2 separate regions of the Homo sapiens genome follow, and region 2 is linked to region 1. Evidence: fine-mapped expression QTL. A gene starts in region 1. The other region holds a variant in brackets. All regions are shown on one strand. Distances are between the middles of the regions.

What was found. PIP is the estimated chance that this variant, and not a neighbour inherited with it, causes the effect. A credible set is the group of variants that fine-mapping cannot tell apart.
Region 2: its variant is the best candidate, but not a certain one, in a credible set for the expression of KIAA1958 in whole blood (TOPMed, PIP 0.73).

Annotation. Positions count from the first base shown.
Region 1 is chr9:112,484,712-112,489,106 of GRCh38, reverse strand. It overlaps KIAA1958, which reads right to left and starts at 2,280. Exons shown (of 4, transcript NM_133465.4): 1 at 1,989-2,280. It overlaps HSDL2-AS1 (HSDL2 antisense RNA 1), which reads left to right and starts at 1,463. Exons shown (of 5, transcript NR_171779.1): 1 at 1,463-2,128; 2 at 2,566-2,717. RefSeq lists silencers at 1,682-2,171, 2,252-2,311 and an enhancer at 2,742-2,801.
Region 2 is chr9:112,411,259-112,415,653 of GRCh38, reverse strand. All of the region lies in intron 4 of HSDL2 (hydroxysteroid dehydrogenase like 2), which reads right to left. Among named protein-coding and RNA genes, the nearest start is that of HSDL2, 33 kb to the right of the region's middle. The variant C/T (reference allele first, on the strand shown) is at 2,273.

The DNA.
Region 1 (4,395 bases):
GAGGGACAAGGAACGCTAGTCAAGGGCCTACCAGAGCCACATACTGAGCTGTGCTTCTGTGCAGAATTTAAATTCATTTACCTAATGCAGACTGGAAGTCAAAGCAGAAACTAGTAAAATTTTATCAACTAAAAAGGATTGGCTTGATCACTGCTAGGTTTTAAGTAATGTGTGTACAAATCTACGCTCCAGGCATTTACAAAATTAGGCATGCAATAATATTAATCTGTTTAACTGGGACAAGAATCTAGATAAATTTTTCTCCTAGAAAAAAGCACTATTTTAAGCATACTAAACTTTTTATAATGACAAAAATCAGTTTGTCTTTAAAAAAGTGCATTAAATTGTACACTGTTTACTAATTTTCAAACCTTAATGAAAATTTAAATACATAATTTTCCACGTTTTTCCTTCAAGTTTAGATGATAATGCTTTTTGTTTTTTTAGGAAAACCTCTATTTTTTACATATGACTGTCCATATAATTGTATGCATGGCCCCCAAAACTGCTTCTTCGTTTTTTTAATCTCCTGGGTAACTGTCAGACTTAACTTTGTCAATATAAATTCTCACAGGGTGGGCAAAAAAGAGTTTCCAGAACGGAGCAGTAGATTGAGATTGATACAGGCATAAATCCATACCTGCGTATTAAAAATCTGAATCTGTAAAATTAATTTTCTGGGTGCTTATTCAACCTCATTTATTATTTGAGTATCTACAATACACAGCAACCGTTCATGAAGAAACTTAGCTAGCTAATCAAATAAGACAATTCAGAAACATCACCCTACAGTATTTTTCAAAACACTGTATCCATATCCATGCACAACCCAATCGTTGGGTTATATACGTGGAATAAAATAGTAAAGGCACAATCCTAGAGGGGAAACTCAATTCTGACATTCATGGTCTCATGGGTAGGGAAAGATCTCATATCTTAAATCAGCAGAAATAAAGGCTTCAGCCTGAAGGGAAAGCTAGATCATTGTTTATTGCACTCCAATTTAACCTCCACCATGGAAGCTGTCACTACCTGACTGGCTTGTTAGCTGTTTATTTCGTCGGGAGAGGATTCCGTCTTGCGAATCCTAACGAGTTCGGGAAAAAACAAAACTTTACTCCTAAACTTCAAAACACACACACACACACACACACACACACGCACACACACTAAATACATATAATTGTAAAAATCACAGCCACGTTCATTTTTTTTAAAGTCCCAATCTAAAACCTTAAAGAAAAAAAAAGACTTGAAGGAACCAAAAACATTCTTTGATTTTGGTTTGACGTTGTTCAGTCCAACCTCCTCCTACCCAGGGGAATACATTTCTCGATATATTTGATAACAAACACAAATCACTGTGCGCAGCCTCAGATGGGGGTGGGGGGGCGGAAGAGCCTTTTGGAGAAAGCCCTCCTCCGTTAGAAACAATAAATAAGGGAGCGAAGCCATGCACGTTCCTTCACACACGCCCCAAACGCACCTCGGCGAGCCACCCGAGGAGGAAAACTAGTGGGGCAGAGCCCTGAACCACCTCTCTTTCTCCATAAGCATCTCAAGACTTGGAAACTAAGAGGACAGACCTTTTCCTCCTCCTTCCCGCCCTCCTTCCCACCTCCGACAGACCCAAGAGCAGGAGCGGGGGCGCCAGCCCCACGCACTGCGCCTGCAGCCGCCGCTGAGACCCGAGCTGCCGGGCGGCGGGGCGGCCCGGGGCAGGCGGACCGGAGCCGCCACCGGGGGTCTCTGCGCCTCGCACCCCCAAGCCCGGCGCTGCCGACGAGCGGCCGCCCGGGTCCCTGCCCTCGCTCCGGCCTCGCTCCCCCGAGAGGAGACAAAAGGAAGGTTCAGCCGGGTCACCGCGCGGCCGCTGACGGGGAAGCAGAGTCGACCCCGGCGCGGCCGCCCCCCACACAAAGGGGCTCCCCGCCTGGGTCGCGGCGTCGGCGCACTCGTCCCCGCCCCGCGCGCGGGCTCTCACCCACCTGCAGGTGTCTGTGCGTCTGTCCATAGGAACGCGGTCGGCGCGGGGGGGCCTGCGAGAGCCGGGCAGCCCGGGCTGGACGGGACGGGCCGAAGGGGCGCGAGGGCGGGAGGAGAGCGGCCAGAGGGCCGGGCACCAAAGGTAAGTGGAGCGGGGAAGGCGCCCGGCGGGCGGCGGACCGAGGAGCGGGGCGGGGGGCGGGGGCGCCAGCCTGGCTCGGCCGACCGCCGCGCGCCGCTCCGTGCGCCCCGAGCTCCGCGCGCCCGGCTCGGAGCGCGGCGGGCGGGCAGGGGGCGGGGCGCGGGCGGGCCGGGGCGGGGCCGGCGAGCGGGGCGGGGGCTCGGACCCCGGGCTCCAGCCGGCACCGGAAACGCGCCGTGGTCGGCGAGACCCACAGGAAGTGTGTAACGACACCTCCTACGGCACGCACCGAGCTCGCAGTCGTTGCTGCCCCGAGGAGGTGTAGATCGAGCCTCCTGCCGCACACACGTTCGCACGCGGCGGCCGGCGCGCTGGACCGAGAGGTTGGAGCAATCCATCCTCCGCGCGCACGAGCTCAGTCCCTACTGCCCCGACAGGTGTGGAACCCGCCGTCCCCGCTATGGTCCGAGGAAGTGTACAGCACTGCTCCCTACTACACGTCCTGGGCCCGCGGTCCCCGATGCCCCCCGGAGCTCTGTGCACCTCCACTGAAACGCAAGGAGCAGACAGAACCTACACCATCCGTGAGGTGTGTGATTTCCCTTATAACGCATTGAGTAGAGTTACCTCTCCGCCCAGGGATGTGCATTAACACTTTCTACCGAGATACTACGTACAGCCCATAGTCACCGCTGCCCCGTGAAGGTGCCCAACAACCACCTGTAACACACACACCCCTATCCCATCGAGGGAGCGGGGATGCTTAATGATACCTAAAATACACTAAAACTAGGTCCTCCAGCAAACCAGAGACACAAGAACACCACCTACACGACTCAGCACAGCAAAGATGAAGCTGGACTTGCTAGGTGCTACCAGGCTTGGTCCACCTTTATTTTACCTAACACTTTCGTAGTACTTGCTGTGTGCCCACAGTTTGCACTGAGTACTTAGCGAATATTAATTTATTTAATCCTAAGAACTCTACATAGTGGGTGCTATTAACATTGCCATTTTATGATAAGGAAACTGAGGCACAGAGAAATTAAGAAATTTTTTCAACATCACATAGATAGTAGCTAGAGGAGCCTGGATTCATTCCGGACAGTCTGGCTTCAGAGTCTGCTCTTAACTCCCTTTCTATTTACAGCACTGACCATCTCCAAAACAGTAATCATGGTAATAAATAACATTTACACCATATCTGTCAGGCCTTACGTAGTGCCCACATCTTGGCCTCACCTCATCTGTGACAGGCATACCCCAGTCACTTGTACCCTTGGAGTAGGTAAGGGAAGAGAAGAATATTTTTGAGGGAGAGAAAGAAGCTAACTTCTTAGCAAAGGAGAAAATATCCAGGGTCGTCCAGAATCCAAGCAGGTAACTTCATTACCACATCAAGCATGTTCTCTTTTAGGTAGCTTCTGCCAACCCCTCTCCATCTCTAGAGCTGATTCCGGTTGATGTTCTTAACACCTTCCTCTATCAACACTCTTCCAGGTCTAGGCTGAAATTTAAAATCTGTGTAAATGTTGACACAATAATGTTTGTACAAACAAAAAAGACCAAAAATGAAAACCCCCTAGTTAATTGCTGCATATTCTAAAGATGGGATCTTGTGGAGAAATTGGAACTCTTATGCAATGCTGATAGGAATGTAGATGGTACCACCACTATGCAAAACAGTGGGGAAGTTCCTCAAAAAACTAAAACTAGAGCTACCATATGATCCAGCAATCCCACTTCTGGGTAAATATCCAAAAGAATTGAAAGCAGGATATCGAAGAGATATTTGCACATTCATGTTCATTGCAGCACTATTCACAATAGCCAAGAGGTTGAAGCAGCCCAAATGTTCATCAACAGATGAAGAGATGAATGAAAATGTGATATATACATATAATGGAATATTATTCAGCCTTAAAAAGGAAGGAAATCTTATCACAGGCTACAACATAGATGAACCTTGAGGATGTTGTGCCAAGTGCAATAAACCAGTCACAAAAGGACAAATACTGTTATGATTTGACCTATATGAACTATGTAGAGGTATGTAAACTGTGGGATTATGTCAAACTTGTGGAAACAAGACGGTAGAATAGTGGTTGCTAGAGGGTAGAGGGAGGGGAAAATGGTGATATAATGTTTACTGGGTACAGAGTTTCAATTTTGCAAGATGAAAAATTTCTAGAGATGTTACACAATAATGTAAATATAACACCACCGAACTGTACACTTAAAAGTAGTTACAAAGGTAAATTTTAAAT
Region 2 (4,395 bases), 73 kb after region 1:
CCAACTGAGGTTATCCGCAACCACAACCATCCCAAATTCTGCCTCCCTAACACACATATGTAATTTTCAGAGATAGTTAATATACTTGTCGGTCAGCACAGTGGTAAATAACATGAGTGTTCAAGTCAGACAGACCAGGGTTCAAATTCTGCTTCTGCCCCTTCATTGTGTGACCCTGGGAAAATTGTATAGCATTCTAATGCTCAGTTCTCTCCTCTGCAAATGTTGGTAAAAGTCACTACCTTCTATGATTGACCAAGAGATTAAAATTAGATGATATATATGAGATACTTAGGACAATGTATATACTAAACATGAAATAAACAATCGCTGTTGTTAGTATTATGTATGCTGATTTATTTCATCTTAATAGGCATAGTACTTCTACTACATTGGAACTGTAATTTAGTAATATAACTCTCATTACATTCCCAAATTTAATTTTCACCAATATAAAATATGCCTTTGGGTGCAATACATAGCTTTATTTTTAAAAAGTCACTCATTAAGGTAGGTAATTTATTTAAGATTCAGATTCAATATTTCTAAAATGTTAATTTTTACATAATGTCAGCAGCTAAATAATATATTATAGCTTAATTTATAGCTTTATTTTAGCTACAAATTTAGCTTTCGTTTACATTCAATGACTTCTAGGACTTCTAGGACTCTGAACTTGTCCATTCTTTTTTTTTTCTTTACCCTGAACCAGGAGCTGTGAATGAACTAGTTCATTCTTCTTTCAAGTCAGTTTTTTAATTACCAAATGTACAATACTGGTGTTAAAAACAGCAACATCTTACCAAGCTTACCAAATATAATCAATACCACTAGAGGGGTTTTGGTAGATACTGTTTTCATTTCCAAAGGTGCTTCACTTTTATGGAGGTGAGGTGAGGTGGGGCAAACAATATTACAGCTGAGTTTCATTAAAACAGTGAAACTGCAACTCGAAGCATCAAGAAGAAACAAACTAAATCTACTCCAGTAAATAAGACCATATTTTACACTCAAAGGAAAGAGCTCATTTCATTTACATTCTAAACATGGGCTTTCCTTTGATCTATGGGACAAGACCTTTCCATCTGCACTTTGCTGGCCTGGACCTCAACATTGCTAATCCTACATCAGGTGCATCTGTCACAGTAGCATGCCCTCTTATATATTATATTGAAAACTCTTAGCACCACACTTAGATACTGATACCTTCAGCCGAATAAAATAGTTACGTTTACTGAAAACCTAACTATGTGCCAGACTCTGTTTTTATTACCTTTCATGAATTATTTTACTTACTTGGGGTTTCAAACTCAAAGACCTGTAAGGCATTTGAGTAAATGAATAAAGTGAGTTGGTGTAAAAACTAGAGGTTCCTCTTCAAAGACTTTCCTCCCTGTCTAATTAGGAATAAATAGTAACTTCTCTTAGAAGCAAAATGTATTCAAAGACCCGTACTAACATTCTTAAATATCTGCTAGCCATGATAAAGAAATCAATGTACTTTAAGTTCTTAGCTCCCACAATTTAGCCTAAATATTTGCCCTGGCATGCATATACTGGTCCAAGCAAGCATTAGGTCATAGCCTGTTCCTCTTCCTTATTTGAAGGTGTTTTTACCGTTCTCAGCATTCCACAAGTTACCTCCTCCTTCCTTTGTTCTCCTCTGCCTTTGCCTCTTTTTAAAAAAAGTTCTAAGTTGCTAGCCAACCGGGACAAATACAGAACGTCAGGTCCCGTTCCAGCCAATGGAAACCGGACACAGCAGTAGGGTGGACGCGTCAGGTTATAAATGACCCTGTCTGCTTTGATCGGTGTACTCTTGTGGCAAAACTGCTGGCAAGTATACCCTTTCTGCAGAAAGTATAAAAACGGCCTTGCTGAGTAAATTAAATTTATGTTCAAGTGCTATTTCTTTATGGCACCAGGGAACAAGCATTTCAAACAGCTGGGAATAAGAAAAATCAACTGTTCAGAGATACAACTGAACCTTACTACTAAGCTTCTAAAAGCATTTAACATGATACAAACAATGTAATACTGGAGAGTATATAATAAATTAAATTGAAAAATACAAATTAAAAAAGAAATGTGTTCTGTGAGTTACCAGGGAAGTAAAAATAAAATAAAATAGAAATATTTCTTTTCTTTTCTTTTTTTTCTTTTTTTTTGAGAGGGAATTTCGCACTTGTTGCTCTCGTTGCACTCTTGGAGTGCAATGGCGTGATCTTGGTTCACCGCAACCTCTGCCTCTTGGGTTCAAGCAACTCTCCTG[C/T]CTCAGCCTCCCGAGTAGCTGGATTACAGGCGTGTGCCACCACACCTTGCTAATTTAGTATTTTTAGTAGAGACGGGGTTTCTCCATGTTCGTCGGGCTGGTCTCAAACTTCCGACCTCATGTAATCTGCCCGCCTTGGCCTCCCAAAGTGCTGGGATTACAGGCGTGAGCCACCACACCTGGCCAAAATAGAAATATTTCATTATGAATTTTCATTTTATAACATACTTTTCATAGAAGGCCAAAAATCTGACACTTTTCTTTGACCCAAAAGTCAGTGTGAGGTCTTTCATTTGGCATTTCAATCTGCTTTTAACTGGGAGCAATATTTAATTTTATTTAGTGTTTTTTTTTTAAGTGGCTGTTTATAAAGGTAGGAACTTTCAATAGTGAATAGAATCTTTGTGCGAGAGTTTTAATTTTAACTGTAATTTTTTTTAAAACAGAGACAGGGTTCACTATGTTGCCCAGGTTGATCTCAAACTCCTGGGCTCAAGTAATCCGCCTGCCTCGGCCTCCCAAAGTGCTGAGATTACAAGCGTGAGCCACCCCACCTGGTCTGTTTTGTTTTTAATTGCACCTTCACATCTAAAAATGTGGGTTAAGACATCACTTTCATTTTTGAAAAATGACCTCAATATAGGAAAGTAGACCAAATTATTTTTGCCAAATGGGCTTCCAAAGACATAATTTCACAAGGAAAAAACAAAGAGACTTATACATTTATGTACACATCAGTCATAATGTCAGTTTAAAAGGTCAAGTCTATAGTTATGATTACTAATTTTGACAAATCTACATAAAATTCAATGCTTTACTTGTATTGATCATCTCTTGGAAAGAAAACGTATATTTTTAACTTTGTTAGTAGGGAGCAATTCCTAGTGAATGATACAATGAACAAACAATTTCTGCACCCCTGCAAAACATATACCTACATTTGTTTAGATTTTAATAAGTCTAAAATTAACACTGACCACTGCTACAGCACTGTCTATAGTTATGATTACTAGTTTTGATAAATCTGCCTTAAACTTGCCAAGATATTTGTCAATACCTTGGAAGTCATTTCATGTCATGAAAACCCAGTCTAAAACCTTTTTAATCACGTCAAAATTCTCCTGACGCCATATACCTAGGTGTGTGGTACAAGTTTAGCTTGGGACCAGAATTGTTTCAGGTTTCATTCTGAAATATCTGCATTATACTTAACCAGTTCAACATCACTACTCCAAAAATTTGAAATCCTTAATGTTCCAAAGAGCATTTCTTTTGAGCGTCGAGTCAGCACTCAAAAAGTTTCAGATCTCAGAGCATTCTGGATTTGGGATTTTCAGACCAGGGATACTCAACCTGTATATGTATATCTGTGGCTTCATCATCTATAATAGAAACTGCCAGAAATCATTAAACTTATTCACACAACACGCCCTTAACTAAGCCTTAGTTCAACATGTTGAGCAATAATATTCCTGGCTAGGTTTATATTTTTAAGCATTTGTTTAAACAAATACTTAACATTCAATTGAAATTCTTTCACAAAGTTGCCAGCTGTAAAATATTTTTATTCCCATATAATTTTTTCTAGTACCATGACAGTATCACATAGCAACATTGCCTATTTTATTTGAAAATAAACACAAACTCTTTCTAGTTCAAGTTTTTCATCACAATCTATATGCTTGCCATAATAGTTTTTTTCTTTTTGAGACAGAGTCTCACTCTGCTGCCCAAGCTGGAGTGCAGTGGTGTGATCTTGGCTTACTGCAGCCTCCGCCTCCTGGGTTCAAGCGATTCTCCTGCCTCAGCCTCCGGAATAGTCCAGTAACAGGTGCACACCACCACGCCTGGCTAATTTTTTGTATTTTTAGTAGAGACAGGGTTTCACCATGTTGGCCTGGCTAGTCTTAAACTCCTGACCTCAGGTGATCTGCCTGCATTGGCCTCCCAAAGTGCTGGGATTACAAGCATGAGCCACTGTGCCCAGCCATTTGCCATAATTCTTACTACAGTTGGATTCAATATGGTTTCATTCAATAGAGACCTACCTTACATATCGAATTTATAGAAATATGCCTTACATCTACAAACAAGTAAGCTTTCACCCATTTTGCTTGAACATA